Regions from separate parts of the Homo sapiens genome. Here all the other regions are linked to region 1. Evidence: fine-mapped expression QTL. A gene starts in region 1. Each other region holds a variant in brackets. All regions are shown on one strand. Distances are from middle to middle.

Region 1 (9,831 bases):
AGGCTGAGCCCAGAGTGGGGAAAGAGGAGTAGGCATGGACAGGGCGGAGCATGGGCCTGGTGACAGACACTTGAGGGACATCAGCAGCAGGCAGAAGGGTGGACAGGTTGGGCTGGGCCAAGCAGGCGTCCCCGTCGACAGCCACGTCAGATTCTAGCCCTGGCCTCAGTCCGGCCTGTTCCCACCAGCTGCCCCAACCAGCCAGACCCCTTGGGGACTCCTCCTGGCCTGGGCCTCCCACAGACCACTTGGGATGGCAGGACCTGGCGCCAGCCCCTGGGGGCCAGGCATGGGCTCTGTGTAAACCCCATTCCTTTTAAAGCCATGGGGCTGCAGAGGAATGTGGAGACGAGCCAGGCCAGCCGGGTCCTCCCAGCTCGTGCAGCTCCCTAGAGGCTGCCAGGCCTGCAACTGGCCCAGCCTTCAGGCTCTGGGCAAACTCAGCCCCTTGCTCCCACTGGAGGATGAGGCGAAAGTGGATGCCCTGGGGCCAGCTCAGTGACCATGCCTGGCTGAGCGACCAGCTCTGGGCTTCAGTGTCCTCCCTGGGGCATAGACACCAATAGGACATGCATCCTAGGATGGTTGTGGAAATACGACAGTTCATGCAAGCATGATGCCTGGAGGTCTTACAGAACCCAGCAAGGCTCAGGGAGTCTCAGGTCCTGGGCTTTGAGTTCATGGTGTTACTGGGTAAGGTTCACAGTCCCAGCACCCCACAGCTCAGAGCCAGAGTTGGGTCCCTGCAGGCCTGAGCCAAGTATTTGCCCAGGGTAGAAGCCTTGGAGCCTGCCAGCCAGCACAAACTACACAGCATAAAGGCCCAGGACCTGGGGGGAGCGGGTGGGGGCGAGATAAAGTGCTCACTGTGTGATGCGGCAGGCAGGAAGTGCTCTTGGTACCTTTGTCTTCCAGAGGGGAAACTGAGGCCTGAGCCGAGAAGGGATGGGGAGGCTCAGGAGGCTGCGAGTGAGACTCAGCCCCTGAGCTCTCCCCCAACAGCTGCCAGCTCCAAGGCCCCCAGCAGTGGGAGTGCCCAGCCACCAGAGGGTCACCCAGGCAAGCCTGAGCCCAGCCGGGCTAAGTCCCGCCCCCTGCCCAACATGCCAAAGCTGGTCATCCCCTCCGCCGCCACCAAGTTCCCCCCTGAGATCACCGTCACGCCACCCACCCCAACCCTGCTCTCCCCCAAAGGCAGCATCTCGGAGGAGACCAAGCAGAAGCTGAAGGTGACCTCAGGGGCTGGGCTGGAGCCATGTGTGGGTGGGAGGCATAGGTTACAAAGGGGGCCTAGGATGGGGGTGGGGGTGGCAGGAGGGCCTGGGGTGTGGGTGAGGATGGCATAGGGGCCTGGGGCAGGGGTGAGGGTGGGAGGGGGGCCTGGGGCAGGGGTGAAGGTGGCAGAGGGGCTTGGGGCAGAGCCCAGCCATCCTTGACCAGTGCCCCGCCCGGCCCTCTCCGCAGTCAGCCATCCTTTCTGCCCAGTCTGCTGCCAACGTGAGGAAGGAGAGCCTATGCCAGCCAGCCCTGGAGGTCCTGGAGACATCCAGCCAGGAGTCCTCGCTGGAGAGCGAGACAGACGAGGACGACGACTACATGGACATTTGAGGGGCCACTGCAGCCCCACCGCCACGCCCCAGGGGACCAGCCAGGCCTGGAATGCCCCCTGGGCAGGACCCTGGGCAGGACCAGAGGCCCACATGGATGCCACTCCCCACACAGCCCCCAGGCCTGCCCAGCCCACCTCCTCATGGCATCCTCCCTGTACCCAGGTCAGGCTGTCCACACCACATGGGAGCCCAGAGGAGGAGGGGCCCGCCTTAGCCATGTGAAGGTGGATTGGTCGCCATCTGCACGCCAGGCGGCATCCTTTTCTATGAAGTGTTGACTTTGTAAATCTGCCCACACCCAGCTGGCCATATCCACCCCTCGACGCCGGGATGAGCCGGCTCTGCCTGTGTCACAGTGGAGGGGTCCTTTAGGGCCAGGCTCACCCCTCACCCTTTTTTTGGTTGCTTTTCTAATAAAGATGGAACAGTTGTCTTTGCCTCTTTGCTCACCTCTAGGGGGCAATCTGGCAGAGTCTCTGGCGGAGAGTTGCTGTCCCCAGGGATTCTGGGCCTTTACTGCCATAGTCCATAGGGCAGGGCCTAGCCCCCCTCCTTCTCCAGCATCTCAGGGACCAGCCAGGCAACCAAAGCAGCGGCTGGGGGTGCCCAGTGGGGTAAGGAGAGAGCCGACTCGGGGCTGGGCCAGGCAGACGCCTCTAGTGCAGCTGGAGCCAGGCTTCAAAGGGGAGTTAGGTGCATCCCCAGAACGCACCTGGGTGCCAGTGGGTGGGAGGCTGTACGGTGGGAGGGCAGGCAGGGCTGGGGCAGCTGAGAGGCTGGGAGGAGGGGGCTGTCAGGGAGGGAAAGGGGGGATGGGGCCGGCAGGGAGGGTACTTAACTCCCATCACAGTCGCCCTAATGGGGCCAGTCACAGAATAGCTGGGCTCAGTGCAAGACATAAATATGAAGCTCCTTGATCAAAAAGGATTAAGGATTTTTTTTTTTTTTTTTTTTTTTTTTTGATATGGAGTCTCACTCTGTCTCCCAGGCTGGAATGCAGTGGCACGATCTGCAGTGGCACGATCTCAGCTCACTGCAACCCCCGCCTTCTGGATTCAAGCGATTCTCTTGCCTCAGCCTCCCGAGTAGCTGAGATCACAGGCACACGCCAACACGCCCAGCTAATTTTTGTATTTTTAGTATAGACGGAGTTTCACCATGTTGGCCAGGCTGGTTTCAAACTCCTGACCTCAAGTGATCCACCCACCTTGGCCTCCCAAAGTGCTGGGATTACAGGCCTGAGCCACCACCATGTCTGACCAAAAATGATTAAGGATTTTAAGGCAGGCCCCACAGAGCATTAAGCCCCTAGAGCTGGCACCCTTCACAACTCTCTTCCCCTCCCAGCACCGCAGGGGCCCTCCTGGCCCTGGGACCTCCCATGGAGCAGGCTCTCTGTCCAGGATGGAGATGGGGACCCTCCTCACTGCCCTGTGCCCCTCATGGGCTGGACATGCCCACCACCCAGGAGGAAAGGCGTAAAGGGCTGGGCACCGCCCTTTTGGAACCAGAGGCTTGGTGGCCCCAGATGGGTCTGGCTGAACCCGCCTTTCGGGGGGCTGAGATAAGCCAGCCCCAGTTACTCAGCTGACGCCCCCTCCCTGCAGGGCCTGGGGTATGGAGCTTCCCAGACTGCACACCTAGCCCCTACCGCACTTCCATTGTCTCCAGACACGCGCAGCAACGGTGCCCAGGCCAAAAACAGGAAGCAGCAGCTCTCCCTCCTCCAGTTCCCGGGAACTGTCTCAGCCGATCCCCCAGCACCCCTCCCTGGAGCCTCACCTATAGGAGGACGGACACCTCGGACCCTCCCCTGCACCCAGTGCTGTAGGGAGCAACTTCAGCCCTGGGCCTGGGATGAATGCCCTCGCCAGCCTGGGGCCAGGAGACAGGCTCTCCCTGGCTCAGCACCTGAGCGTCCACTTACAGGACACTCACCTGCAGAGGTGCCCTGAGCGCCATTGTGGGTTAAGGGACTTTCTCCCCTCTGGAGACAGTCCCTGAGAAGCTGAAGGTCTTGGGGGCCTCTCACCAAATGTCTTTGGGAGGTGGGAAAACATCAAATGCGGGTGTGGCTTCCCTGGAACAGCTCTGTGTGGGGACTCAGGAGCCAAGTCCCCCAGCACACGCCTCTAACACTTTCAGTAGGGGCCACCTCTCTGGAGCCACGGGTGGCTGCCAACACCCTGTGGTTCCCAGCAGGCACCACCCAGGCAAGAGAGAGAACAGGCCGGGGAACAATGGGCTGGCCTGGCCGCAAGCGCTGGGGCAGATCACAGACCGGATGGCCTAAGCTCATGCCCTGGGGCCACCTCTGACTCCCTGCAAGTGTGGCAAGGGTCCCTTTTGGACACCTTGAGAAGCTGCAGCTGGGAGAGGACCACCCGCCTGTCTGGATGTCCAGCCCAGGTGTCAGGGTCCAAATGACCAGTCCCAGGCCGCAGCCCTTACCACCCGCCCTGGCTGCAGGGGCTCCCAGAAGCCACCAAGGGCCTGGCTCGGCCTTGCCTATCCGCATCTGAGCTTCAGTTTCCTCATCTGCTCAAGAAGGGAGGTGAATACTGATTAAATTATGCAAACTCTTAGCGGCAGGATTAGGTGTGGCTGGGACAGCCAAGGCTCCCCAGGGTGGTGGCATCTCTGGAGCCCGGGGATGGGCCCTGTCTCCCTTCCGGGCCCCCCGCTGGGCTTGGGTACCTTCTCTCCCCTTCCTCCTTCCTCCCTCCAGAGGGGACCCCTGCAGAGCTGCCTCCGCCCCAGGGCTCAGCCTGTGTCTGACCCAAACAGCTCCTGCCTCCCCCTGAGGATGAGTTGGGTGCACCTCCTTCCTGCAGGAAGATGAGGGCTAGAGATGGAGGTCTATGTCAGGGCCACAGAGTCTGGAATCCTCCCTGGAGCTAAAACAGCCCTGCCTTATTCACCCTGCGCATCCCATCCTCTGCTTCAGCCCCGCCGGGCTCGCCCTGCATGCAAGGCGGGGCTGGGACCCAGGGTCTGAGCTTCGCCCTCTGGACATCCGGCTCATCGCCTGCCAAAGGTCCTGTGGCTGGAGGCTCCGGCCTCCTCACCCTCCCACAGGGTCCCAGGGCCGATCCAGGCCTGCGGGCCAGGAATGTGCTAACGGGGCAACTTGGGCCTTGCTGGTCCACGCAGGCACCTGTGGACTTTGAGAGGGGACTGGGTGGGGAGGGGCGGGGAGGGGCGGGGCGGGGCGGTGCCGCAGAGTGCAGGGCGGGCGGGGCCAGGCCAGCAGGGAGTGAGCTTGTCTGGCCGCCTCGCCTCGGAGCCACTGCACTGCTGGCTGCAGACACAGGCTGCACCATGAAGCCAGCCCTCCTGCCCTGGGCCCTGCTGCTGCTGGCGACAGCCCTCGGCCCGGGCCCCGGACCCACAGCAGGTATGCCTCCCTGCCCTTCTGTGTCCCCGTCTGTCTGTCCATCTGTCTGCAGCCAGGCCTGGGCTGACATCCCTCTGGGCTCAGCCTCTGTCCATCTGTCAGGCCATCTGTGGCTGTGCTAGGGGTGATGGGAAGAAATTCTGAGGGTCCATGTGGAGGGGCAGCCCATGGGGATGGGAGGTCTGAGCCGGGCCCACCCTAAACCTGCTGGTAGCTAGGAGGGAGGCGGGGGAGACCAGCAGAGGCCTCCGCCTGTGTCCCCAGCCCTGACAGGGCGGGATCACGGAGGGGGAGCCAGGATTGTGGGTCCTCATCAGGGTGGGGCTGAATCCAGGAAAGTCTAGGGAAAGCCCCGAACTCCAGAACCAGGACACTGGTCCCAGGCTGCCCCCCGTCCCCCACCCCATTTCCCATCGACCCTCTTGCCACTTATCTCACTTGCAAGCATCTCTCGGCCTCCTCCCCCGACCCCTGTGCGCCACCAAATCCTTGGCCAGTACATATTTATTGTTGCTTTTAAGTGCCAGGCACTGCACTTGGTGAAGTGGGGCCAGCGGGGTGGCTCAGGCCCAGGCCTGGCCCTCGACTGGCCTCTTTTGATGGGGGATGGGGAAGGGCCAGGGAAGTGCAATTCCAGCCTGGGTGCATGCACCTGCCCCAGTCCCTCCCTGCAACCCTTCCTTCATGCCAGCCCCTGGAAATATGGCCTTGCCCACCGGTCTTATGGCCCATAGGAGAAGTTTTGGGCCCGGCGCCCACAGCCCCTTGTGGTGTGCACCCCCACTTCCCTTTCCCCACTGCTGGGACCCCTGCTTGAAATGTCCCTCCTCTCCCCAGAAAGGAGGGGAGCGGCCCTGGCCTTCTGCCCTGAGCACGGAGCTCTCTTTGGGGTCTCAATTGCAGCCCCTGGGAGAGCGAGAAGTGTCACGTTCAGACCCTGCACCATTCCCTACCAGGCCTCAAATGAGACTCTTGGCAGCCATATCCCCCACCCCAGTCCAGGCAAGCAAGAGGGGTTCTTCTGCAGGCTTCAGGGCCCCCAGAAGGCGTGCTGACCACAGACACCCTGGGGAGCCAAGAGAGGTCGAGGGCTCCAGCTACCGTGGCCCACTGAGGACCCCTGCCTGTGGGATAGAGGACTTGGTGGCTGAAGGGCAGTCATGCCCAGGGGCTTCTCCTGACCCTGCAGGGCTGAGCGGATGCAGCTTTTTGCCTCTTCTCGCTGCATTCTAGCCCGTCAGTCAGGGCAACAGCCAGATGGTCTGTGCTAAGATTCATCCCATCCCCACGGGCCCTGTGGCTTTCTACTGTGTCCACCTGGTGGCCTGTGCAGTTCCTGGCCAGCGTTCTCCTGGGGATGCTGCTGTCTAATGGGCTGTGGGAGAAACAGAGACAGGCCCTGCACATGGGGCAGCCAGTCCAGTACCCGCCGGGCCAGGCCCTCAGCATCCTCTCCTCCAGATGCCCAAGAGAGCTGCTCCATGCGCTGTGGCGCCCTGGACGGGCCATGTTCCTGCCACCCGACGTGCTCTGGCCTTGGCACCTGCTGCTTGGATTTCCGGGACTTCTGCCTGGAGATATTGCCCTACTCAGGATCCATGATGGGCGGCAAGGACTTTGTGGTGCGGCACTTCAAGATGTCCAGCCCCACAGACGCCAGTGTGATCTGCAGGTTGGGAGGCCCAGGAGGCCGGGCACTGGGGCCCCACGCCCCCATCCCTGTGCATGCTGAGGGCTCAGACCCACTGACTGGCTGAGTGGAGCCCCTCGGACCCAGGACAGGCAGGAGGGCACAGGGACAGCTGGCTGGTTGGGTTCCCCAGGGAGGTTGGGGGCCCAGACCATCGAGAGGCTCAGCCTGCAATGACCCAGCCCCTCCCACCACCACCACGCCCACAGGTTTAAGGACAGCATCCAGACCCTCGGCCATGTGGACTCCTCCGGGCAAGTGCACTGTGTGTCACCTCTGCTCTATGAGAGCGGCCGCATCCCCTTCACTGTGTCACTGGACAACGGCCACTCCTTCCCTCGTGCGGGCACCTGGCTGGCTGGTGAGCCCTCCTCCCTGCCCACAGCCTGCCCCCACGGGGACTTTCCCCAGCGCTAATCTATGCACACCGAGACTTGGCCTGTCCGTGCCCTGCCTCTCTGGCTGAACCAGTCCCTTGGGAGGCCTGCCCGCCTGCGAGAGTTCCTTCAGCTCCTTTCCACTCCCTGGCATCCAGACCGCGGTCCCAGCCCAGAGTGAGTGGGAGCTGCAGGGGTCCCTAGAGAGGTGGGCCAGTGCCTATCCACTGAGCTCCGCCATGCCAGGGCAGGGGAGAAGCCAGGTCGAGGCTAGAGGCGTGGGCAGTGGAGGGAGGGCAGGCCCCTGCCTCTGCGGCCTCAGCGTCCTTTTCTGCTGTGCGGGCCAGAGAGACCATCACCCAGCTGCTGCCATGCATTGGCCCTGGAGGCTCCCACAGCCCTTGAAGCCTCAGGGCCTCCTCCCTGCTTCCCTGGGCCCAGGCCCTCACTCACCCCTCACCTCCCCTGCCCAGTGCACCCCAACAAAGTGTCAATGATGGAGAAGAGCGAGTTGGTGAACGAGACGCGTTGGCAATACTACGGCACCGCCAACACCTCAGGCAACCTCAGCCTGACCTGGCATGTCAAGTCGCTGCCCACGCAGACCATCACCATCGAACTGTGGGGCTACGAGGAGACAGGTGAGGCCAGCTGAGGGCTGGGGTGGCATCAGAGCTTTGGGCCCCCAGAGGGGGAGAAAGGGGGTCCCAGCTGTGTGGGAGGAGGAAGGGAGTTTCCAGGTGGGGTTGAGGAGGGAAGGGAATTCCAGGCAGAGATTGAGGATTCGGATGGAGGGAAGTGCAGGTCAGGGGGGTCAGGCAGGTGGGAGGGGGCAGCTCATGGGGCCTGGCTCCAGGGGAGGAGGCTCATGAGGAACCCCTGCACGGCTGGCATGGCCCTGGGCCCAGCTTCCAGCAGGGACAGGGATCCTGGAGTGTGGCAGGAGGTGATGGTCACCCAAGCCGGGGTCCCTGCTAGAACAGCCCCTCCTAAGGGGACCGCCTGGCGGTCCATCCACCCATCTGTCAGGCTGCTGTAGGTGGCAAGGCCTGGGGCCAGGCCTCGAAGGAACCCCAGGGCTAACCAGGCATCCTCTCCCTCAGGAATGCCCTACTCACAGGAGTGGACTGCAAAGTGGTCGTACCTGTACCCCCTGGCCACACACATCCCCAACTCCGGCTCTTTCACTTTCACCCCAAAACCTGCTCCTCCCAGCTACCAGAGATGGCGAGTGGGTGCACTTCGGATCATCGACAGCAAAAATTACGCAGGGCAGAAGTAAGAAGGCATGGATGTGCAGGTGATGGCTGGAGGGCCTCGCCGCCCGAGGCCCATCATGCTTGCCTGGGCAGCCCAGGCTGGGGGTGGGGAGAGTGGGGCGACCATGGGGTGGTGTGGGCTGGCCCAGCTCCAGCATCATCACCTCCACAGGGACGTGCAGGCGCTCTGGACCAACGACCACGCACTGGCCTGGCACCTGAGCGATGACTTCCGAGAGGACCCTGTGGCCTGGGCACGAACTCAGTGCCAGGCCTGGGAGGAGCTGGAGGATCAGCTGCCCAACTTCCTGGAGGAGCTGCCGGACTGCCCCTGCACCCTGACCCAGGCCCGGGCTGACTCCGGCCGCTTCTTCGTGAGCCTCCCATCAGGGCCCAGGAGAGGGGATGAGGGGTTAGCCTCCCCACTGAGGACAGCACCAGGGGAGGCAGACAGAGGTGTCCTGGAGGGTGGGGCTGGGGTCTCAGGACCCCTGCAGGGTTGGCCTCAGGGAGGGGATGACAGAACCCGAGGCCACTGGGTGACAGCCACCTGCTGCTCTGCAGACGGACTACGGCTGTGACATGGAGCAGGGCAGCGTGTGCACCTACCACCCCGGGGCCGTGCACTGTGTGCGTTCTGTGCAGGCCAGGTGAGCCCCCAGGCTGGGGCCGGTATGGGGATTGGGGTCAGGGGTGGGCTCCCAACAGTGGCCTGGCCCTGACTCACTGGCTCCTGCAGCCTCCGGTACGGCTCAGGTCAGCAGTGCTGCTACACAGCGGACGGGACGCAGCTCCTGACAGCTGACTCCAGCGGCGGCAGCACTCCCGACCGCGGCCATGACTGGGGCGCACCCCCGTTCCGCACGCCACCCCGAGTGCCCAGCATGTCCCACTGGCTCTACGATGTCCTCAGCTTCTATTACTGCTGCCTCTGGGCACCCGACTGCCCCCGCTACATGCAACGGCGGCCCTCCAATGACTGCCGCAACTACCGGCCCCCAAGACTGGGTGGGTGCCATCCCGTGCCCCAGACCCTGGGAAAGATCGGGCTGGGCTGGGGTGCACCCCCACGTGACCCTCCACTCTCACCCTAGCCTCCGCCTTCGGAGACCCACACTTTGTGACCTTCGACGGCACCAACTTCACATTCAATGGGCGCGGAGAGTACGTGCTGCTGGAGGCAGCGCTGACCGACCTGAGGGTGCAGGCGCGGGCCCAGCCCGGGACGATGTCCAACGGTGAGGCCAGGGCTAGGGGCTGCTCTGGTTGGCATGGGGTAGAACCAAGGTGGGAGGCTGGAGCCAAGTGGCTCCCGTTCTGCTCCCACCACCGCAGGCACGGAGACCCGTGGCACTGGGCTGACCGCAGTGGCCGTCCAGGAGGGCAACTCAGATGTGGTGGAAGTCAGGCTGGCCAACAGGACCGGAGGTCTGGAGGTGCTGCTGAACCAGGAGGTGCTGAGCTTCACCGAGCAGAGCTGGATGGACCTGAAAGGTGA
Region 2 (9,831 bases), 40 kb after region 1:
AGGACATGGGCCCTCACAGGACATCAAATCTGCCAGTACCTTGATCTTGGACTTCCCAGCCTCCAGAGCTGTGAGCAATAAATTTCTGGAAAATGCTATAAGCCACCCACTTTCCAGTATTTTTGTTATGGCAGCCCAGGCAGACTAAAACAACCTCTGTGGCACATTTGGGGTGATGGAGGAACAGCCGATGTTCCTAGGAACCAGTGAGGCGCAGGAGTCCCAGATCCCTCTAGTGAGATCCCCAGAGAGCACCACGTACCCACCCTGCAGCTGGCAAAGCTATTTATGGAAGTTAGGGGCCTGTTGGTTTAGAGCGGCCATTCTCAACCAGGGGGATGTGGCACTGTCTTGAGACAGTTTTGGTTGTCATGAGTGGGTGTGTGCGGTGGGGAGTGCTACTGCATCACACAGGCTGAGGCACGGGATGCTGCTCAACATCCTACAGTGTGGGGACAGCCCCCCACAACAAAGAATCATTTCATTCGAAACATGGATGAGGACCAAGCGCAGTGACTCACACCTGTAATCCCAGCACTTTGGGAGGCCGAAGCAGGAAGATTGCTTGAAGCCAGGAGTTTGAGACCAGCCTGGGCAACATGGTGAAACCCCATCTTTACAAAAAAAGCAAAAAATCAGCCGGATGTGGTGACACACACCTGTACTCCCAGCTACTTGGGGGCCTGAGGTGGGAGGATTGCTTGAGCCCAGGAGGTCGAGGCTGCAGTGGGCTGAGACTGCACCACTCCACACCAGCCTGGGTGATAAAGTGAGACCCTGTCTCAAAAAAAAAAAAATTAGCTGAGCACGGCAGCGTGCATGGTGGTTTGTGCCTGTAGTCCCAGCTACCTGAGAGGCTGAGTTGAGAAGATGGCTTAAGCCAGGGAGGTGAAGGCTGCAGTGAGCCAAGATCATGCCACTGCATTCCAGCCTGGGTGACAGAGCCAGACCCTGTCTCAAAAAAAATGACAGAACAGACTCTGTGGCAACAAGATACCAAATTATAAAGAGGACCCAAGGCCAAGCCAGGCAGGGGTTAATTCATGGACCCTGCACTTAAAGAATAAACTATGTTCTAACAGCAATGAGGCTTTCCTTTTCCTCCAGCAGCAACAAGCACCGGCCTGAAGCAACATTAATACACTTTGCAGCTCATCCAGCTCACGGATGCCAACTTATTGACCCCCTGTTTTTCCAGGCATAACTACAGCTCCGACTGGACAAGAGACTGATTTCAGTAACTTTCTCCTGATAAGAGACCATTGACCATGAACTGGCTCTGGCTGGTTTTCAGAAGTTGCTCACTTGCAGGCCTTCAGGCCCTGAAAAGATGTTTTGACAGATGGGGCCTAATTGTAATACATTTTATTTTATTTTATTTATTTTATTGAGATGGAGTCTCACTCTGTTGCCCAGGCTGGAGTCCAGTGGCACCATCTTGGCTCACTGCAACCTCCGCCTCCTGAGTTCAAGCAATTCTTCTGCCTTGGCCTCCTGAGTAGCTGGGATTACAGGCGCCCGCCACTGTGCCCGGCTAATTTTTATATTTTTAGTAGAGTTGGGGTTTCACCATGTTGGCCAGGCTGCTCTTGAACTCCTGACCTCATGTGATCCACCCGCCTCGGCTCCACAAAGTGCTAGGATTATAGGCGTGAGCTACCGTGCCTGACCTTGTAATACATTTTAATGTTAAGTCTCCACCGTCTTCATCCTACAGCAAACATGAGTCCTATGTTACATGCATGTTCGTTCAATACACATGTGTCAAGACTGCCTTCATGAATATTCATAGCTCTCCCTGTAACATGTTGAATATGTATGTTTAGCCAACCCCTTCAGCATACAGCTCCTGCCCCAACCTCTCCTCCTTAGAAGTGCCTATCTCCGGATCACGAGATCAGGAGATCGAGACCATCCTGCCTAACACAGTGAAACCCCGTCTCTACTAAAAATACAAAAAAAATTAGCCGGGCGTGGTGGCGGGCGCCTGCAGTCCCAGCTACTCGGGAGGCTGAGGCAGGAGAATGGCGTGAACCTGGGAGGTGGAGCTTGCAGTGAGCCGAGATCGTGCCACTGCACTCCAGCCTGGGCAAGAGAGCGAGACTCCATCTCGAAAAAAAAAAGAAGTGCCTGTCTCTGGTCTCTGCCAGAGGCTATGCTTTTGAAAGTGGCGGATGGCCACCCTGCAGTCTGTAACCCTTTATGAAAAATAAAGTTGCCGCTGTGGCTCACACCTGTAATCCCAGCACTTTGGGAGGACAAGGCAGGCGGATCACTTGAAGTCAGGATTTCAAGATGAACCTGGCTACATGGTGAAACCCCATCTCCACAAAAAATACAAAATGAGCCGAGTGTGGTGGCACGCACCTGTAATCCCAGCTACTCAGGAGGCTGAGGCAGGAGAATCGCTTGAAGCTGGGAGGCAGAAGTTGCAGTGAGCTGAGATTTTGCCACTGCACTCCAGCTTGGGCAACAGAGTGAGACTTTGTTTCACAGAAAAAAAAAAAAAAAGAAAGTAAGTTGGGGGATGGGGGAGAGCTTCAGGAAGAATAGCTAATGGATGCTGAGCTTAATACCTAGGTGATGGGTTGATCTCTGCAACAAACCACCAAGGCACATGTTTATCTATGTAACAAACTTGCACATCCTACGTATGGGCCCCTGAACTCAAAACACAAGTTGAAGGAAAAAAAAAAAAGAAAGTCTTGTCGGGCATAGTGGCTCACACCTTAATCCCAGCACTTTGGAAGGCCGAGGAGGGAGGATGGCTTGAGACCAGGAGTTCAAGACCAGCCTGGGCAACATAGCGAGACCCTGTCTCTACAAAAAAAATTTTAAAAATTGGCCAGGTGTGGTGTTGCACACCCGTAGTCCCAGCTACTTGGGAGGCTGAGGCAGGAGGATGGCTTGAGCCCAGGAGGTTGAGGGTGCAGTGAGCCGTGATTGCACCACTGCACTCCAGCCTGAATGACAGAGCAAGACCCCATCTCAAAGAAAAAAGAAAGAAAGAAAAAATGAAAGGAAAGAAGAAAGAAAAAAGTCTCTTTTCCAAATTTGTGAATTGTGTGATTTTTCAGTTAACCAGCTCTCAGGTCTGGGGCCAGTCACGCTGCTGAGTCCTGGCCACCAGAGTGGTGAGGTGTTGGGAGGCAGAGGTGGTGCTTGTCTCTGTCCAGGGGTGGCCTGGCTGAGGTTCGGCTGGTCCACGAGCATCAGTTTCCCCACCTCCATGGTGGTGGAATGTGGAGAGCCATAGGAGCCTGGTGCATGCACCCCTCTGTGCACTGTCCGAGGGTCCCCTCCCCACTTAGAACCATGGAATCAGGCCACAGTCCGCCTCTTTAATCTTGGACTGGAGGATATACAGATCGAGAGGGTGGGAGAGTGGCCCCAGGCAAGAGGCCTGCGGAGGGATAGAGGGGCCGGTTCAGGACCACCAGGGGCTCTGGGAAAGGGGGTTAGGGATGAGGCTCAGCCTCTCATCTGCCCAGCTGGTCCCCGCCACCTCTTCCACTCTCAGCTGGACTCCCCTGCCAGGGGTCCAGATCCTGCCAGAGTAGTTGGTCCCCCAGCCATGTCCGGCCTGGACACAGGACTCATGGTGGGGCCAGACTTCAGCTCTGGGCAGAGCAGTGTCTTAGTAGCCTGCGGCCTCCCCACTCTTCCTCAGGTCCGAGACGGCGTACACACAGGCCCCCTCCTGGGACACAGCCTGGACCACGTTCAGGAAGAAGGGCCTCTGGGTCTGGTTCTGGCCACGGTCTTGGAGTCCCCTCTGCACCTCCTGGAGAGGAGAGAAAGCAGGTTCACAGGGGAGGGCAGCTCAGCCCATCTCCAGGAGGGAGAGGCCTCTGCAAGAAATGAGAAAAATGATCAAAAGGCAAGACGGAGAGGAAGAGGGCCTGAAGACACAGGAAGAGGGGAGGACCAGATGGGAGCATGGAAGAGATCCAAAGGCCCATAGAGGACAAGCTCAGCCTCCAGGGACTATGTACGAAGGACACCACCCAGGCCCGAAGACCTCCAAATGCAAGTTCATGTCTGTTCTGGATCCAAGGACACCAGGGCCTTGAGGTGCAAATCTGAGTTCAGGGGGCCTTCGATGGAGGATGTGGCTTCTCAAGATTTAGACACTGAGGCCAGACACAGTGGTTCACACCTGTAATGCCAGCAATTTGGGAGGCTGAGGAAGGAGGATCACTTGAGGCCAGGAGTTTGAGACCAGCCTGGGCAATGCAGCAAGATCCTGTTTCTAAAAAATAAAAAATAAGAAATAAAAAAAAGCCAGGCGTGGTGGCACATACCTACAGTCTTAGCCACTTGGGAGCCAAGGTGGCAGGATCACTTGAGGCCAGGAGTTTGAGAACAGCCAGGGCAACAAAGCAAGACACCGTCTCTAAAAGAAAATCAAAAATTGGGCTGGGCGTGGTGGCTCACACCTGTAATCCCAGCACTTTGGGAGGCCGGCGCAGGAGGATCTTTTGAGCTCAGGAGTTCAAGACCAGCCTGGGCAATGTAGCAAGATCACGTCTTTATTAAAAAATAAAAGAAAAGAAAAAAGAAAAAATTAGTCGGATGTGGTGGCCCTGTGCTTATAGTCCCAGCTACTCAGGAGGCTGAAGCAGGAGGATCCCTTGAGGCTAGGAGTTTGAGGCTGCAGTGAGCTTTGATCATGACACTGCACTCCAGCCTGGGCAAAACAGCAAGACTGAAACCGCCTTTGCAAAATTATGACTGAGACAGGGAAAGAGATCTAACTTAATCGACTCCATCTTGCTTCTAACCTCCCAGTTGTCCTTGCTCATTCCTGGGTGTAGGCTGAACTAACTTTGAGAGAAACTTAGTTTATAGTTTAAAACAAAGACGGTAACAGCCCTTTCCCAAAGCAGACTTCCTTCTTGCCTGGGCACCAGACTGCCTTCGTAGGACTCACATTAGCCACAAGATTAGAAATTATGGTTTAGGAGTCACGCAGCTGAAGGCTAAAGATTCTGACCCTCCCTAAACTGCTCTTAAGATCAGTGCTTGAGAAATTTTGCAGACCCTGCACTTGATGGATCAGCTGGCACCATCCAGATCGATTAACTGGCTCATCTGACCTTGTGGCCCCCACCCAGGAACGGACTCAGCTCAAGAAGAAAGCTTCAACTCCCTATGATTCTATGATTTCCAGGGGTTTTTTGTGTGTGTCTGTTTCTGAGATGGAGTCCCGCTCTGTCACCCATGCTGGCGTGCAATGGCACGACCTTGGCTCACTGCAACTTCCCCTCCCAGGTTCAAGTGATTCTCTTGCCTCAGCCTCCCCAGTAGCTGGGATTACAGATGCCTGCCACTTTGCCCAGCTAATTTTTGTAATTTTAGTAGAGACAGGTTTTCGCCATGTTGGCCAGGCTGGTCTCCTGACCTCAGGTGAACCACCCACCTCAGCCTCCCAAAGTGCTGGGATTGTAGGCGGGAGCCACCGCGCGCAGCCAACTCCCTATGATTTCATCCCTGACCTATCAGCACTCCTGGCTCATTGGCTTCCCCCAACCCGCCAAGTTGTCCTTAAAAACACTGCTCCCTAGCCAGGCGCGGTGGTCATGCCTGTAATCCCAGCACTTTGGGAGGCCAAGGTGGGCAGATCACCTGAGGTCAGGAGTTTGAGACCAGCCTGGCCAACATGGAGAAACGCTGTTTCTGCTAAAAATACAAAAATTAGCCAGGCTTGGTGGCACACACTTGTAATCCCAGCTACTTGGGAGGCTGAGACATGAGAATTGCTTGAACCCAGGAGGTGGAGGTTGCAATAAGCTGAGATCG[C/T]GCCACTGCACTCCAGCCTGGGTGACAGAGTGAAACTTTGTCTCAACAACAACAAGCCAAAAAAACAAAACAAAACAAAACAAAAAAAACTAATGGCCCGAGAACCTCACCCTGCAGGGCCTGAGATTCCGGAGACATCTAGATGCATCGGGTGATGCCACATGGCCTGAGCTGCTGACAGGGCAAATGAGGTCTTTGGAGCCCTGCACGTTTGGCTATGAGTTCCCCATGCCTGACCTACTAATTGCCCACTGTCCTTAGACTTGAAGGCCAAGATCCTTTACTGCTGAAGCCAAAGTTGGACCTTCAGTGCTCAGAGACTCCATTCCTCAGAGTCCACTGGCCAAACTCCAAGACTCTGAGGATCAAAGACTCTCCTCGCCCTAGTCCCTGGGCCTTAGCTGTGAAGGTCCTTGGAGGCTTAAAGTCTCCAACCCAGAGTTTAGGATTTACTCCATGGAAAGCCCTAGACCTGAATAGCTGACATTCCAACTCCCCAAGGGAGCTGAGAACCTTAGGTTTGTGGGTCACTGGATTCCATTAATCCCAGTCCCCAGACTGTCATCTCCCAAATTCTCAGCATTTCACGTCCCCAGGGTGAAAGGTCCTGAGAATTGATGTTCACAAAGACAAAGGTCCTTCAGTCAAGAGTCAAGGGAGGGGCCGGGCGCGGTGGCTCACGCCTATAATCCCAGCACTTTGGGAGGCCAAGGCGGGCGGATCACAAGGTCAGGAGATCGAGACCATCCTGGCTAACACGGTGAAACCCTGTCTCTACTAAAAATACAAAAAATTAGCCGAGCGTGGTGGTGGGTGCCTGTAGTCCCAGCTACTTGGGAGGATGAGGCGGGAGGATGAGGCAGGGGAATGGCGTGAACTCGGGAGGCAGAGCTTGCAGTGAGCCAAGATCGTGCCACTGCACGCCAGCCTGGGCAACAGAGCGAGACTCCGTCTCAAAAAAAAGAAAAAAAAAGAGTCAAGGGAGGGCCAGGCACAGTGGCTCATGCCTATAAGCCCAGCACTTTGGGAGGCCAAGGTGGACAGATCACTTGAGATTGGGAGCTCAAGACCAGCCTGGCCAACATGGGGAAACCCCATCTTTACTAAAAATACAAAAATTAGCCAGGTGTGGTGGCGCACATGTGTAGTCCCAGCTACTCAGAGGCTGAGGCAGGAGAATTGCTTGAACCTGGGAAGCGGAGGTTGTGGTGAGGCAAGATCATGCCACTGCACTCCAGCCTGAGTGACAGAGTGAGACTGTCTAAAAAAATAAAAATAAAAAAAGAGTCAAGGGAGGAGGGCTCCAAAGGATGTGCCCTGGATCTTGAAATCCTCCATATCTAAGATCCCTGGAACCCGAGAGCCCTGAGAGGGTCTTCCTGTCATGCGAAGGACCCTACATGCGGAGGGAGGCCTGCAAACTCCAAGAGTTTGAGCCTAACAGGCTGAGGTCCTTAGTCTCAAGGTCTGAAAACTAAGGCTCTTGGGACTACACTCTGTTCCTGGACTAAGGCCATGGTTCTCAGGTTCTAAGGGCTTTGGAAGGTGGACTTGAGACCGAAGAAGTCTCATAACAGGAGAGGCAGCTTTGACGATCTGGAACCTCAGCTGCTATCAATCTTTTTTTTTTTTTTTTTTTTTTTTTGAGATGGAGTTTTGTTCTTGTCACCCAGGCTGGAGTGCAATGTCACGATCTTGGCTCACTGCAACCTCTACCTCCTGGGTTCAAGTGTTTCTCCTGCTTCAGCCTCCCGAGTAGCTGGGATTACAGGTGTGTGCCACCACGCCTGGCTAATTTTTGTATTTTTAGTTGAGGCAGGGTTTTACCATGTTGGCCAGGCTGGCCTGGAAGTCCTGACCTCAGGTGATCCACCCGCCTCGGCCTCCCAAAGTGCTGGGATTACAGGCATGAGCCACCATGCCCGGCCACTATCAATCTTTTAAATAGGTCCTAACAAAGGGCATCCATCAACCCAAAGATGCTCCAAGGAAGCTGAGTCTCTGTCTAAGGATAGAGGGGGAGTCAGCCAGAAGAATTCAGCCCCTGGAGCTGCACCATGGGCTTCTGTGGGGAATCAAAAAAAATGTTTGTAGGCTGGGCATGGTGGCTCACGCCTATAATCCCAGCATTTTGGGAGGCCAAGGCGGGAAGATTGCTTGAGCTCAGGAGTTCAAGACCAGCCTAGGCAACATGGTGAGAGACCCTGTTTCTACGAAAAACAAAAAAATAAAAACTATCCAGGTGTGGTGGCACACACCTGTAGTCCTAGTTCCTTGGGAGCCTGAGGAGGAAGGATCACTTGAGCCCAGGATGTCAAGGCTGTAGTGAGCTGTGATCGCAACACTGCACTCCAGCCTGGGCAACAGAGTGAGATGCTGTCTCAAAAAAAAAAAAAATTATATATATAGTAAAAATTACCACCAATGCCCTAGTGCCCCAGAAGAAAATCACTTTACAGACTGTCACAGGAAAAACAACCTCTTTCACAAATAAAGTTGCAAATATTAGTTACAAATCACACAAGGAAAAAGTCACCATGAGGGAGAGTCTGAGAGGCCCCAGCCAGGAAAACTCACTTCTGAAAAATGGCATCAACCACAGACCAGAGACCAAGGTGCTGAGATCCTCAGCCTGGGAGCAGCATAGACAATACCCTGCTCTCTGTCTTGGAGGCCACAGAACTGGCCTGGAGGCCACTGACAGCCTCACCCATCAAGGTCCCCAACTCCTATGGCCCCCAAAGTTGAAGTGTACCTGGCCTAAGAATCTCAGTGACTGAGTTCCTCCCAGGTGGCTTTGAGCAGCACGGATTTGGGGAGTGGGCTCTGCCCTAGGCATCCAGCTCGGACCTCAGCCTCACCTGGCTGAAGTTGGGCTCGTACTCCACACAGCCCTTGCTGTTGACATGCAGGATGGGGGCTGCAATGGCCGCTCTCAGGTCAAAGCCAAGCCACAGCTTGCTCATGATGGCCTGGGGGAGAGATGAGGGTTTCAGGGAGAAAGGGGGCACCCTGCTACCCTACATCAGCCCTCACATCCCCACTCCAGAGACAGTCAGACAGTATGCTGCCCAGAGAGGAGACACTCGAGCCAGGAGCCCCAGACTCACCTGGGCCACAGCAGAGATGATGAGCTCCCCGCCAGCCCCGCCAATCACTAGCTTCGACCCCTGGGCTTTGTTGATCAAGATGGAGGGCACCATGGAGGATGGGGAACGCTCGCCTGGAACTGGGGGCCAGCACCTTCCGGGAGCTCCACCCACCCTGTCTCCACTCACTGCTGAGCAAACAGCGTCTTGGCAAGTGCAGTGACCCATCCAGGGGTTAGCATGCAACCCCAGCCCAGCCCCCTCCCTCCTCTCCCCTGGTGGGGGGCCCTTGTGGACCCCGGGTGGGAAGCTTTGTTCTCACCAGGTGAGGGGGTGGTGCCGGAACCCCGGGGGCATCGCTCGCATAAGTCCAGGAGCTCGTTGTTGAGGATGATGCCTGTCCGTGGTGAATACACCATCGCTCCAAAGCTGCAGCCGTGGAGGCAGAAGAGCCTGGGCTAGGACCCGGGGCTCCCACCAGACACCACTTACCCTGCACGCTTTGCAGGACCCCCTCGTTTTACAGCTGCCCCGAAGCATGCTGAAGCCGCTATTCTCTCCCTGGCACCACCCAGGAGGGGTCCCCAAAGACCCACCTGTGCCCCCACATCAGGGCACCCTTCTGAGTGAGGCTACCCATTCCCAGGTAAATCTTGGGTCGGGGCCACCCCAGCAGCAGCCTTTCCAGCCAGAGATGTCAGGGGTGGGGGCCTCTTTTGAAATAGAGGAGGAGAAAAAGGGCAAAAGCAAGGTGCTGCCCCGTGGGGACAAGTGAGGGGACATGGGGCTGGGGGTGTGCAGGTCTAGGAGAGGAGGAGTGAAGCCATCCGCCTTCCCCCAGGCCCTACGCACGGTGTGTTGATGGTGCTGGTGGCAGCCACGGCGCTGCCATCCTCCCCCAGCACAGACACATGGGACGTGCCTGTCCCGTGGCCCCAGG
Region 3 (9,831 bases), 78 kb before region 1:
CTGCCAGCCCAGGGCGGCACATCAATCACGGGGGGGTGCTCGGACGACTCATTTTGTCGCTTCGTTTTGGTGAGGGGGGGTGCTGGGTCTGGGGTGACACGGGCAATGTTGCGGCTGCTCATTAACCTCATGGATTCACAGTGATTCTTGTGCTTCCGAGACATGCTCAGGGTCGCCACCTGCCAGCTTGCCCACCTGGGAGCCAGGGGAGGGGGCAGGCCAGGCTATGGCATCTCACATCTTTGAGCCTTCTTTTTCTCGCCTGCAAAATGGGGACATGACATCTACTTTGAAAGGAAGTTAGAAGAGTGTGGCCTCCTGGAGGGGCTCCTGGTGCAGTCAGCTTAGTGATGCCTGCATTGTTCAGCAGCACATTGTTACTGCTCTGTCCTTCTGAAGGTTGAGGGAAGGCCGTGACTAGTTCTAAGTCTGTCACCCCTGAGAATCCAGATAAGTTGTTAATGGGGGTCACCTGGGACCATATGTGTGGCCATGCCATGTGGGATGGGGCAGGTGGCGACTGTTCAACCACATTCCTTACTAACATTAGGAGGCTTGCATGCTGGCCTGTAGCTCGATTTCTTCATGTTCTCTCATTTTTATAGTGATAAGCTAGTGACAAAGTACTTGCTGGGATAAGCCAAATTGGTGATTTAAGAGGACCACTAAAGTGGAGTCCTGGGAGGTAGTGACAATGCTGAAAGACACCTGGGCCCTCACTCCTATGTCACTCATCTCATCTGGGCTTGGGGAAACAGGCCTTGCTCTGCATTCCCCAAGGCATGGGGATGCTAGTAGGTGGGTAGAATTGGTCCCAGGGCTCTGCTTCCTGCCAGATAGTCTTTATAGAGTGGCTCCTTGGAGTAAGAATGGGCACTCTAGGGCACCATGGTAGCCTTGAAGTTCAGTCCCAGTACAGGTCTGGGGGGGGCCACCACCTTCGCTCTAGTGCCCTGCTGAGGCCCTTGCCCAGTGCTCGGGTTCCTGGATATAGCATGGGCATCTGCCTCCAACTTTCTGAACTAAGTGGGTAGGGCTTGAGAGCAGGTTTAAAGAAGTGCTGGAGAAGGATGACAAGGGGGCCAATGCTCCATTTCTCTGGGGGCAGGATTTGCTATTCTCAAGAAAGGAAAGGAGACCTGCAGTGTCCCCTCCTGGGTTTGGTTTGGATCTACAGCATGCGTGTTGAGAGAGGCTGAGGATCTGAGTGTGTGCTGTGTCTCTTACCTCCTGGAAGGTTCATGTCATTACTCCCAGTCTCAGCACTGACACCTCGCTGCCCACCCCAGAGTGTTAAGCAGAGATGGGAAGAACTGACCCACCTGCTCCTCCAATCTTCAGTTCTGCAGACTTTCCCTGTTAAGATCCTCTCTCCCCTTCTTAGTTAAGTTAATCACCCTGTTCCCAAACTTTTACTCTTGAGAATATTGAGAAAACATACTAGCAGCAAACCCCTTCTCAGGGAATTAGTTTTTGCCAGCTGCTTCCTGGGAGGAAGCACTATGCCAAAGTTTTCAGGAGAGGAATGCCTTTCCTGGTTGTCCACATGCCATGTGGCCGTGCTCACATGCACCTGGGCTAGGGAACCCAAGCACTGTCCTCTGCAGCTCTGCAGGCTCCCACTGAGGTCACGCCACATGCGCCACTGTGCTTGGATGTCAGCCCATTAGGGTTGAGTATGCCTCTAGAAGCAGGAAAGGAGGGAGGCAGGAGCGCCTCAGAAAGGGGGCCATGATGCCAGCTGTCCCATGTTGGCACATATGTGTGCATGAAGCTGTTGGTGAGCCACTGCAGATCACTCAGGCATGACAACTGGGCATGACAGGTCCTGGGTGCCAACATGCTAGTTATTTGTTCTGGAAGTTTGCAGAGGGAGCCATACAAATAAGTTCAAATATGGTTTCAGTGGTTGCACAGTTTTGAACATTTGTTTAAAAAAAATGTCTTCAAAGTGATTCCTGTCAAAGACACAAAGCCATCAGGATCCCATGGCCCATCTTTGCCCAGTCCCAGCCCTGCACTGGCCACCTGTGTGCTCTGCCCAGGCCTGGCTGCATAATGCTTTCAGAACTCAGCTGCCTCACCTCTGAGAGAAAGCAGTGTCTGCAACATGAAAATGTTTGGGGTCCTAAAATAGCTGTGATCTTAGAATGTTAAAGTGGCCCTTTCAGCAGCTATACTAGTTCCTAGGGGAAGGCCCAGGTTCCAGGGAGAAGCAGCAGATTGCTGGTGTCAGGGGATGTGCTGGTGGCCTCAAGGGGCCACACTGCCCACCTCTGTTCCTGCTTCTCCTTCCTGGGAGGAGAACATGTAGTTCCTAGTTTCCACTCAGCTTCTTGGCCTGAGACCAGCCTTGGGTCTACTGTGAGAGGAGAGGGGCGTCAGCACTGATTGCAGGCCACCACTGAGCCCTTATACTACCAGGAGGGTGATGGGTGCTTCTAGCCCTGGTACAGCTGAGGAGAAGCAGTCACGGGGAGGTCAGATGGGGAGGTCAGACAGGGAGGCAAGTGCACAGCAGGCCCTGGTCAAAGGATCTGATTTCCAGTCCCAGCTCCATTGCATATGTGCTCTGCAACCTTGGACAAAGGACTTCACTTCTCAATTTCCTCACCTGTTGAATGGGGTAATGTCTTCGTTATGGGTATTAAACAAAAGTGCTTGTACATTGCAGCCACCTCCTGGATGGAGTTCTCCAAGTCATTGGTGGAACTAGGGTAAGACCTAGGTAGCACTGCATAGAGGGAAGAGCCTGGGCTCTGGGGCCAGTCCCCCTCAGTTTGCACCCCACCTCTCTCCAGCTAGTGGCATGGCCTCACAAGAGGTGGAGGTAGTGTCCTCTGAAGCAGCAGCTCCTGAGTGGGCTTGGGCATGGGGCTTTCTGGATCCTGGTTTCCTACCCCCACAGAACAATTAACTTTCCAGCAGTGGGAGAGGGAGCCAGGCGTCAGGACTTTCCTTGGGCATGGTTAGGAGACCTTGCATTGGAGCTGCCTTCCCACATTGGTATGCCTTTGCTTCAAAACCAGAAATCAGCTAGGATCAATTCTGATTTGGTTTAAGATTTAGAAAAGATTTAGAAAAATAGCTCCAGGTACATGTGGGTTGTTTGACATTTGATAATAGCTGCTTCATAGGACCCAAATTTGTTCTCTGAACCACCCTCACCTGCAACCTTGTGTCACCTGCATTAGGGTGGGGAGCATCCTGCAGCCTGTGCATAACTCTGGTTAAAAGCCTTTGGAATCAGCCCCTCAGGTCACTCTGACTCTACCGCAGCCTGGTGTCAAAGCCAGCCCTTCACGGAACAGCCAGGAGGGCATCACAGCTGACCTCTGGCCAAGCTGAGAAAGAGAGCAAGAGAGAGAACAACAGAGAGAGAAGCTTTGTCCTCTGCTGTGCTGCTGGCAGCTCTGGCTGGTTGTGCTCCCCATCTGCCTAACTTCTGCCTTCCGTCAATCTCTTGGAATTTGCCCACAGGGCTGAAATCCCTAATGTTGAAGCTTCCTGACCAGGAAAACGAGGTGACCCGAGGAGCACATTGTGACCTTCAGGGGGTTCCCAGTGATTACTCTTTATACATATTCAAGCAACATAAGGAGATCTTTGAACAAGACCTCTACCCCTACCCTGTGTACAGTATGCGTGTATGTATGTGTGTGTGTGTGTGTGCCCGTGTGTAATTACGCCCTACCACTCAATGCTGTGTGCTTGCTCTGTGCTGGGCTCTGGGCAGGTGCCTGCAGGGTAGTAGCATGTCTCCATCTTCATAACTGCCCTGCAGGCTCGGTCATGCCCTTGTTTCCCCAAGAGGAACCTGAGCTGAGGGCAGGTAGGCACTCATCCAAAACTGCCTGCTGTAGTCAGGGTATAGCCAAGAGATACTGGGTCTGAATCTCCCTCCACCCCTAGCCAGAGGTGAGACTGACACTAGGAAGGCCCTGTGGTTGGCCAGCCTGGCAGAGACTGAATCTGTGTGTGTTTCCCTTGTCCTTCAGCAGAGGGCCCAGAGAGCTTAGCCATTACAGAATGGCTTGGTTCGTCACTTGGCCTGGCTCAGCCCTGCTTTGGGATGTGTTGATAGTGCCTTTCTTGGACTAAAATCCTTGCTCTCTGCCTGTCGTGCTCCATGTCACTTCAGAATGCCAGAGCCAGAAAAGGCCTCAGAGCTCGGAGGCCTTGTGCTGTGGTAAGTCTGGGGCTGAGCCTCTCTATGGTCTTTGGCCAACCTGTAGCCATGCCCATCCAGGTGGTTCCATCAGTGCTGTGCCAGGTGCATAGAACAGCACTGGTCCCTGCTGTAGAGGAGGTTGGTGCAAATCAGTCAGTTACATAGCTGAGGGTTGGGGGTCAACTGATGCCAGCACCAGAGAGGTGGGGTTTGTTCATCCCAGAGAAACCTGGGCCTGTTGGTGGGGTAAGAGGCCTTTCCGAGGAGGCAAAGTTTAGCCAAGATCCGAGGGGTGTGTCGGTGTTTCTCTTGAGGGGTTGGGGAGAGGGAGCAGCCAGGGTCAGAAGAGTGGGAGCCTTGGAGGCTGGTATCCACCAAGGGTGGTGATGCCTACCTAGTCCCACTGACAGCATGCACAGAGCCGCTGAGGAGTCTCAGGCTACCTTGAGCCCCAGGTTGTAGGGTGTGGGCCTCACTGGAGAGCCCAGGGTGCCCTGTGCCAAACCCCCATTGTGGCCATCCATCCTCAACCTCCATGCTGTCACCGTCTGTGTCGTGTGCCGTCTGTGCTCATCTTCGCCTGTTCGCCCCATGCTGCCTCCACCAATATTGCCCGTGCTGCCCCTAACCCTGACCACACTCTGTTCTCCAGGCTTTGTCTTTCTGCTTGCACCTGTCACGGCTCGCTTCAGGGAACAGCGCAGACCCGCATGCTCAGCTCTCAGTCCGGCTCCCTGCTACCCCTGTGACCAGGAGCACCTTCATGTCTGCTCGCCCTGTGATTTGGAGAGTGTGTTTGATGCGCTTGGCTTCTGCTGATGGCCTATCCTCCCAGTTCTGGCCAGAGGCAGATGCG[G/A]TGGGGGCCTCTTCTCCACTGCCCCCCTGCCTGCACCTCCAGCAGGTGGCCCAGTCCTATATTTCCATTGCTTTGCTCTTTCTTGCTTTAAAATAAACAACAAAGGCAACAGACTCTAACATACCAAATTATCTTTACAAGGACAAAGGTGTAAAAATGCAAATTGTGCACAGTAGCCTTGATGCTCTGAGGTGGGTCCTGTGTCTTCAGCCCACCAGGGCCAGGCTATGTAGGACGGGGAGCTGTGAATGCCAGTCAGTCCTAAAGGGCAGGCCCACCCTGGCCTCTGCTCAGTGACCTCCCCTCCTAGGGCTAAGGGGAGGTCAGTTTCTGGTTGGAGTGCCATTCCTAAACAGACCTTCTCAAAGTGGGAGAGACTGTAAGTGGAGCTCAGTTTGTTCTGCTTGTTCCTGACGGGCAGGGGACAGGGGAGGCTGTCAGCGAAGAGCCACTCACCTCTTTTGTTCTCTTCTTTCATTCTTAGCTTTTTGAAAACCTTTAGGAGTTAGCTGGTCACGGCATTTATTGAACATCTGTTGTGTGCCAGGCATGGAAAAGGGTGCCATGGGGAAAGTCAAGATGATGGTGCCTTGATTCCTGCTCCCAGGTTGGATCTGATGTCCCATGGTATCATGGGACAGTAGTTGGTGCCAAGGAGGAGTGCCATGAGCTGGCAGACGGGAGCAAGTTCTGGGGTTTGGTGGGTTGGGAAGAATTCCTGGAGAAGGTGAGTCTCTAGAGAGGCCTGCAGGCCCATTTAGACATGGAGCTTGGAGAGTCCTACAGCTTTTGGATACTGAGGTGACTGGGGTGGATGAAAAAGAGACTTTGAGGGGAGAGAGCTTGGGAAAGCAGCTGGGCTCTGAGGGTTGGGCTCTTTCCTGTGGGCAGTAGGGAGAGTGATGTGGTCACAGGATCTCTCTCTCTCTGGGCTCTAAGGAAGGCACAATTTTCCCCCCATCATCCTTTGAAGAGCCTTCCTGGGAAGCTCACTAGATGGCTGGGGGATGCCAGCCTCACACCTTACAGAACTGCTTCGCTTCTTCTGGCATTTGTATCAAGAGGGGCTGTTCACCTGCCTTTGGTCAGGAAAATGTTTAAAGCCTCCCGAGGCCTCCCTGGTCAGTGCCTTTCCTGGCTCAGAGGGCAGGATGAGAGATGCATGATGAGGCCTCCGAGCATCAGGCCCCTTCAGGGCAGCACCATGGTGTCTACACATATCAGGCTTCTGATATGTCTGCCAGGCTTCGAGGTGCCTGGCAGTGCTCAGTTGGCCCTCACCTGTGAGCACTGGCAAAGAATGGACAAGTGGTGCAGCCTGGCCCTCACACAATGCCGTCATGCCCACCTGCTGCCTGCTGTGTATCTTCCTCTCTCTCAGGGGCCCCCAGGTTTCTGGTACCACTTTTCTTTGGCATCCATCCAGTCTTCTCAGCCTGACAATGGGCACCCCGATTTCCCGGGCCAGCCTTGCTTCTGGTGGACGTGTTCTTTTCCTGTGGTTGGCCAGGATTGACTGAGGCAGCTTTTATCTAGTCAGAAAATTTCTCAAAATACTAATTCCACCCAAGTTTACGGTTCTTAGAAACCTGTTGTTTCCTGGTCGGCAGGACATTTGTGGTCTTTTCTGGGGCACTAGTCAGAGCTGTTGCAGTAGCACAAGCATACATCTTCTTCCTCAGGCTTTCACTGCCCCAGGCTGATGGAACAAATGGCCGTGAGCTGTTTCTGGTCTTACTGCTGGAGCAAATGGAGGAAACACACTTAAAGAGACACTGGAAAGTTGCATCTTGTAACTAAAGAGCTCTTTTAGGCTGGCCTGAGAATCCTGGGATTGTCCAAGGGATCTGAGCTGAGTCAGACCTGAACAAGGAGGACTCAGAACACAGAGTCTTTTCTCACACTGAGTGGGGACAGGCAGCCTTTCTGTCACTGAGCCAGGTCTCTTTCCCTCTGCGTTGCCAGCTGTCATTCCTTTACAGTTGATCCTGCAAATCCCACCCTGGAAGTAGAAGGTTCTGGAGCTTAGAGGGAGGCAGTTTAATAAGCACTTGGCTGGCAGACGCACATCCCCCTAAGGATTCAGAGGGAAGGCTGGCGTGGCCCAGATGCATAGACACGAAACATTCCAGTAATTAACAGTAACAATAAAATATTTATAATCTTGCCACAAATATTAATTAGTATGAGCAGGTTTTGTGTGGGCAGATTTTTAAAAGAACATTCTGAAAAAAAGAGCAAGGCCAACCTATAGCCTGCTTGCTAGTGCCATTCTTCTTTCCTGTTGGCCTCCAAGTAGCTCCCTAAAGAAATCAGCTCTCAGCTCCTGAGTCTCAAGGCTAGATACCTGGACTGTGGACAGTCCCTGGAGGTTCCATCCAGGGTGCCTGTTTCCCTGGAAGGCTCTCTCCACCCAGCCCCATAGGAAGTTTAGGCTAAGTCTGGCTCTCCTACATCAAAGAGGCTTTCCATCTGTCTCTTGCTCTGCCTCAGAACCAGGGGGCCCAGAACCCCCTCCTCACCCAAAAGCCCCTCCACAGAAAAACAGCTTGACTCTGACTTCTTCCATCTGGCCTTGCTCTATTAGGCGAGGCAGGAGAACAAAATGCCTCTGCCACCAGGCTTGGCAGCTTTTGTCTATAGAGCACAGGCAGACCCAGCCGGTCCTCTGAGGGCTCAGCACAGGCCATTAGCACACAAAGTTGCATGTCAGCCCATTTGAACCTAGGGCCACAGGATCCCAAAGATCCTGTGGAGGAGGTAGGACTGGAGCCAGGCCTGTAGGCTGTTCCTGAGGCCAGAATTCCCTCTCCACACATACTCAAAGACTCCCCAGTTCACTTGGGCAGCATGAGAGTGGTGCATTATGGTGCTAGGCTGCGTTCAGCTGTCTGGGAAGCGGGTGGAGTATGGCTCAGGGAGTGGTCCTTGCCCAAAGGTACATGGCTGATGGATGGGGGTCCTACCCCAGAGAAGAAGCCTTTGACCTGTGACCTCTTCTCCCAGAAGCCTTCCCTGTGCACACTGGCCCTTCCTTGGCTGCAGGTCTGGTAACCTGAGAGATGACCTTGCAGAGGGGCCTGCTGGGAGTAGAGAGATGACAGTAGTCAGCGGCATCCTTCCTTTTCCTCCTGCCCCTCTTCAGGGGCCTCCCAGAGCAGGGGCTTCCTGCTTCAGGAATGGGGGTGGCTCTGGGTTACACACCACAGTCCAAACAACCCTCCCTGCTGCCTGCCCTGCCAGCTTATCCAACTGCAGGGGTCCTGTTCTCCAAGAGCTTTTTCCCAGCACTGTGGCACATTGTCCTCCCTACCTTGACTCACCCAGCCCCTGGGCTGTCCCATCCACAGCAGCCCAGCTGGTGGCAGGATGAGGGTCCTTTTCACATGCTCTGCGATGTTCCTGGCAAACTTACCCCACTGTTCATGTCTGTCTGTCTGTCTTTCTGTCTGTCTGTGGCCTCTCTGAGGTCTTCAGTCAGCTGTACCAGAGAAAGTTTGCTTCCCCAGAAGAGGAGGAATGGAGGCTGGGGCACTGTCTGCCCAGGTAGATAGAGCCATTCTTTAAGAGCTTTTTCATTCATCCCTTTTGCCCTATTGACGTGAAAGAATTGAAACTTGGTGTTCTTTCAGTCTGACTGGCTTGAAACTTGGTATGAAACCTTGGGTTGACTTTTAGTATTTGAAATCAGGGTCATTTTAAATAGGCTGTGCCAACCCTTTCAGACACACAAGATCTGAAAGGAGCAGAAAATGGGCCTTGGGCCTTGAGTCCCTTTTGGTGGCTCTCATTTGAAGAGATAACACATCCCTGGACTCCTTCCTGTGGTGCTGCCCCCTTGGTAGTGGGCGGGAACCTTGGCAAGCACCTCCCCCACCTGCTTGCTTCACAGGCCAGTTGGGCATCTCATCTCTGTGTACATAGCCCCTGCCTCTCCAGCTCTGCCACAGCAGCCCACCCCAGCATCATGACCTGCAGGTGGCACCCAAGACTGTGGTGAGCCCCATTAGCAGAGCCTTCCTCAGGGCCACTTAGGTACCTTGATTACCCCTTAAACAAGGGTTTGTCTAGAATCACCACAATGCCCCCCAGGGCCAGTACCAATCTCTGCTCTCTGGTTTTTTAGATGGTTGGCAGTTCCAGATTCTCACATCTGTGTCTGAGAGGCTCAGGAAGGGCCTGGCAAAGTGTAGTCAGCAGCCTTTTGTCCCTGCCAGGTCCCTTGGCTTGTGCTTGCCCTGTTCCACTGCTGTGGATGTTATTTTAAGAGTCTCAGCAGAGTCCCCACTCAATTGGTGGTCGTTCTTCAGGGAGCAGAAGCCCCTGCACAGCATGCCGTCCTTTCTTGCCCACACAGTTCCTGGTGAGGTCTGGCCACCTTCACTGCCTGCTGGATGGATCCTGGTTCCTTCACATTGCAGCATCAAGAGGGTGTTAGCACTTTGAGAGTAAATATCTACTTGCCTAAACCAATCCTTAGTTTTCATAATGATCACAGCTGGGATTCCACCAAATTGGCAATTCCTTTAGGCCCAGAGCCCAAAAGAGCCTGTGAGCCGGTGAGCTCGTGGGGCAGCTTGCCAGTCGGTGAAATCATCCTAGCAAGGCTTGCTTCCTGGAGCTTGCCGCAGGATGTGCTGCTGAGCTGTGCAGTGACTTCAGCTAGTCTCAGGCTGGCTGAGGAGACCCAGCCCTAGCTTGTCTTTCAGGGAGACTTCAACTGCGGGGCATGGCCTGCTGTCTTTCAGAGACTCTGAGGCCTCACGAGCATTGTCTAAGCCATCGGTGTTCTCACTGTCAGGGC

The links. PIP is the estimated chance that this variant, and not a neighbour inherited with it, causes the effect.
Region 2: its variant is the best candidate, but not a certain one, in a credible set for the expression of SUSD2 in thyroid (GTEx, PIP 0.69).
Region 3: its variant is the best candidate, but not a certain one, in a credible set for the expression of SUSD2 in whole blood (INTERVAL, PIP 0.76).

What each region holds. Positions count from the first base shown.
Region 1 is chr22:24,176,589-24,186,419 of GRCh38, forward strand. SUSD2 (sushi domain containing 2) reads left to right here and starts at 4,899. Exons shown (of 15, transcript NM_019601.4): 1 at 4,899-5,007; 2 at 6,469-6,679; 3 at 6,907-7,058; 4 at 7,548-7,715; 5 at 8,178-8,352; 6 at 8,506-8,707; 7 at 8,898-8,983; 8 at 9,073-9,341; 9 at 9,428-9,571; 10 at 9,669-9,827. The coding sequence starts at 4,932. CABIN1 (calcineurin binding protein 1) reads left to right here. Exons shown (of 37, transcript NM_012295.4): 36 at 916-1,229; 37 at 1,465-2,040. The coding sequence ends at 1,608. RefSeq lists enhancers at 6,869-6,948, 7,019-7,128.
Region 2 is chr22:24,216,333-24,226,163 of GRCh38, forward strand. GGT5 (gamma-glutamyltransferase 5) reads right to left here. Exons shown (of 12, transcript NM_004121.5): 8 at 9,744-9,831; 9 at 9,214-9,320; 10 at 8,913-9,079; 11 at 8,664-8,774; 12 at 3,328-3,784. The coding sequence ends at 3,638. LOC124905090 (a long non-coding RNA gene) reads left to right here. Exons shown (of 2, transcript XR_007068023.1): 2 at 1-98. Among named protein-coding and RNA genes, the nearest start is that of GGT5, 24 kb to the right of the region's middle. The variant C/T (reference allele first, on the strand shown) is at 5,803.
Region 3 is chr22:24,098,214-24,108,044 of GRCh38, forward strand. The region is part of intron 26 of CABIN1 (calcineurin binding protein 1); the gene reads left to right. Among named protein-coding and RNA genes, the nearest start is that of SUSD2, 78 kb to the right of the region's middle. The variant G/A (reference allele first, on the strand shown) is at 5,028.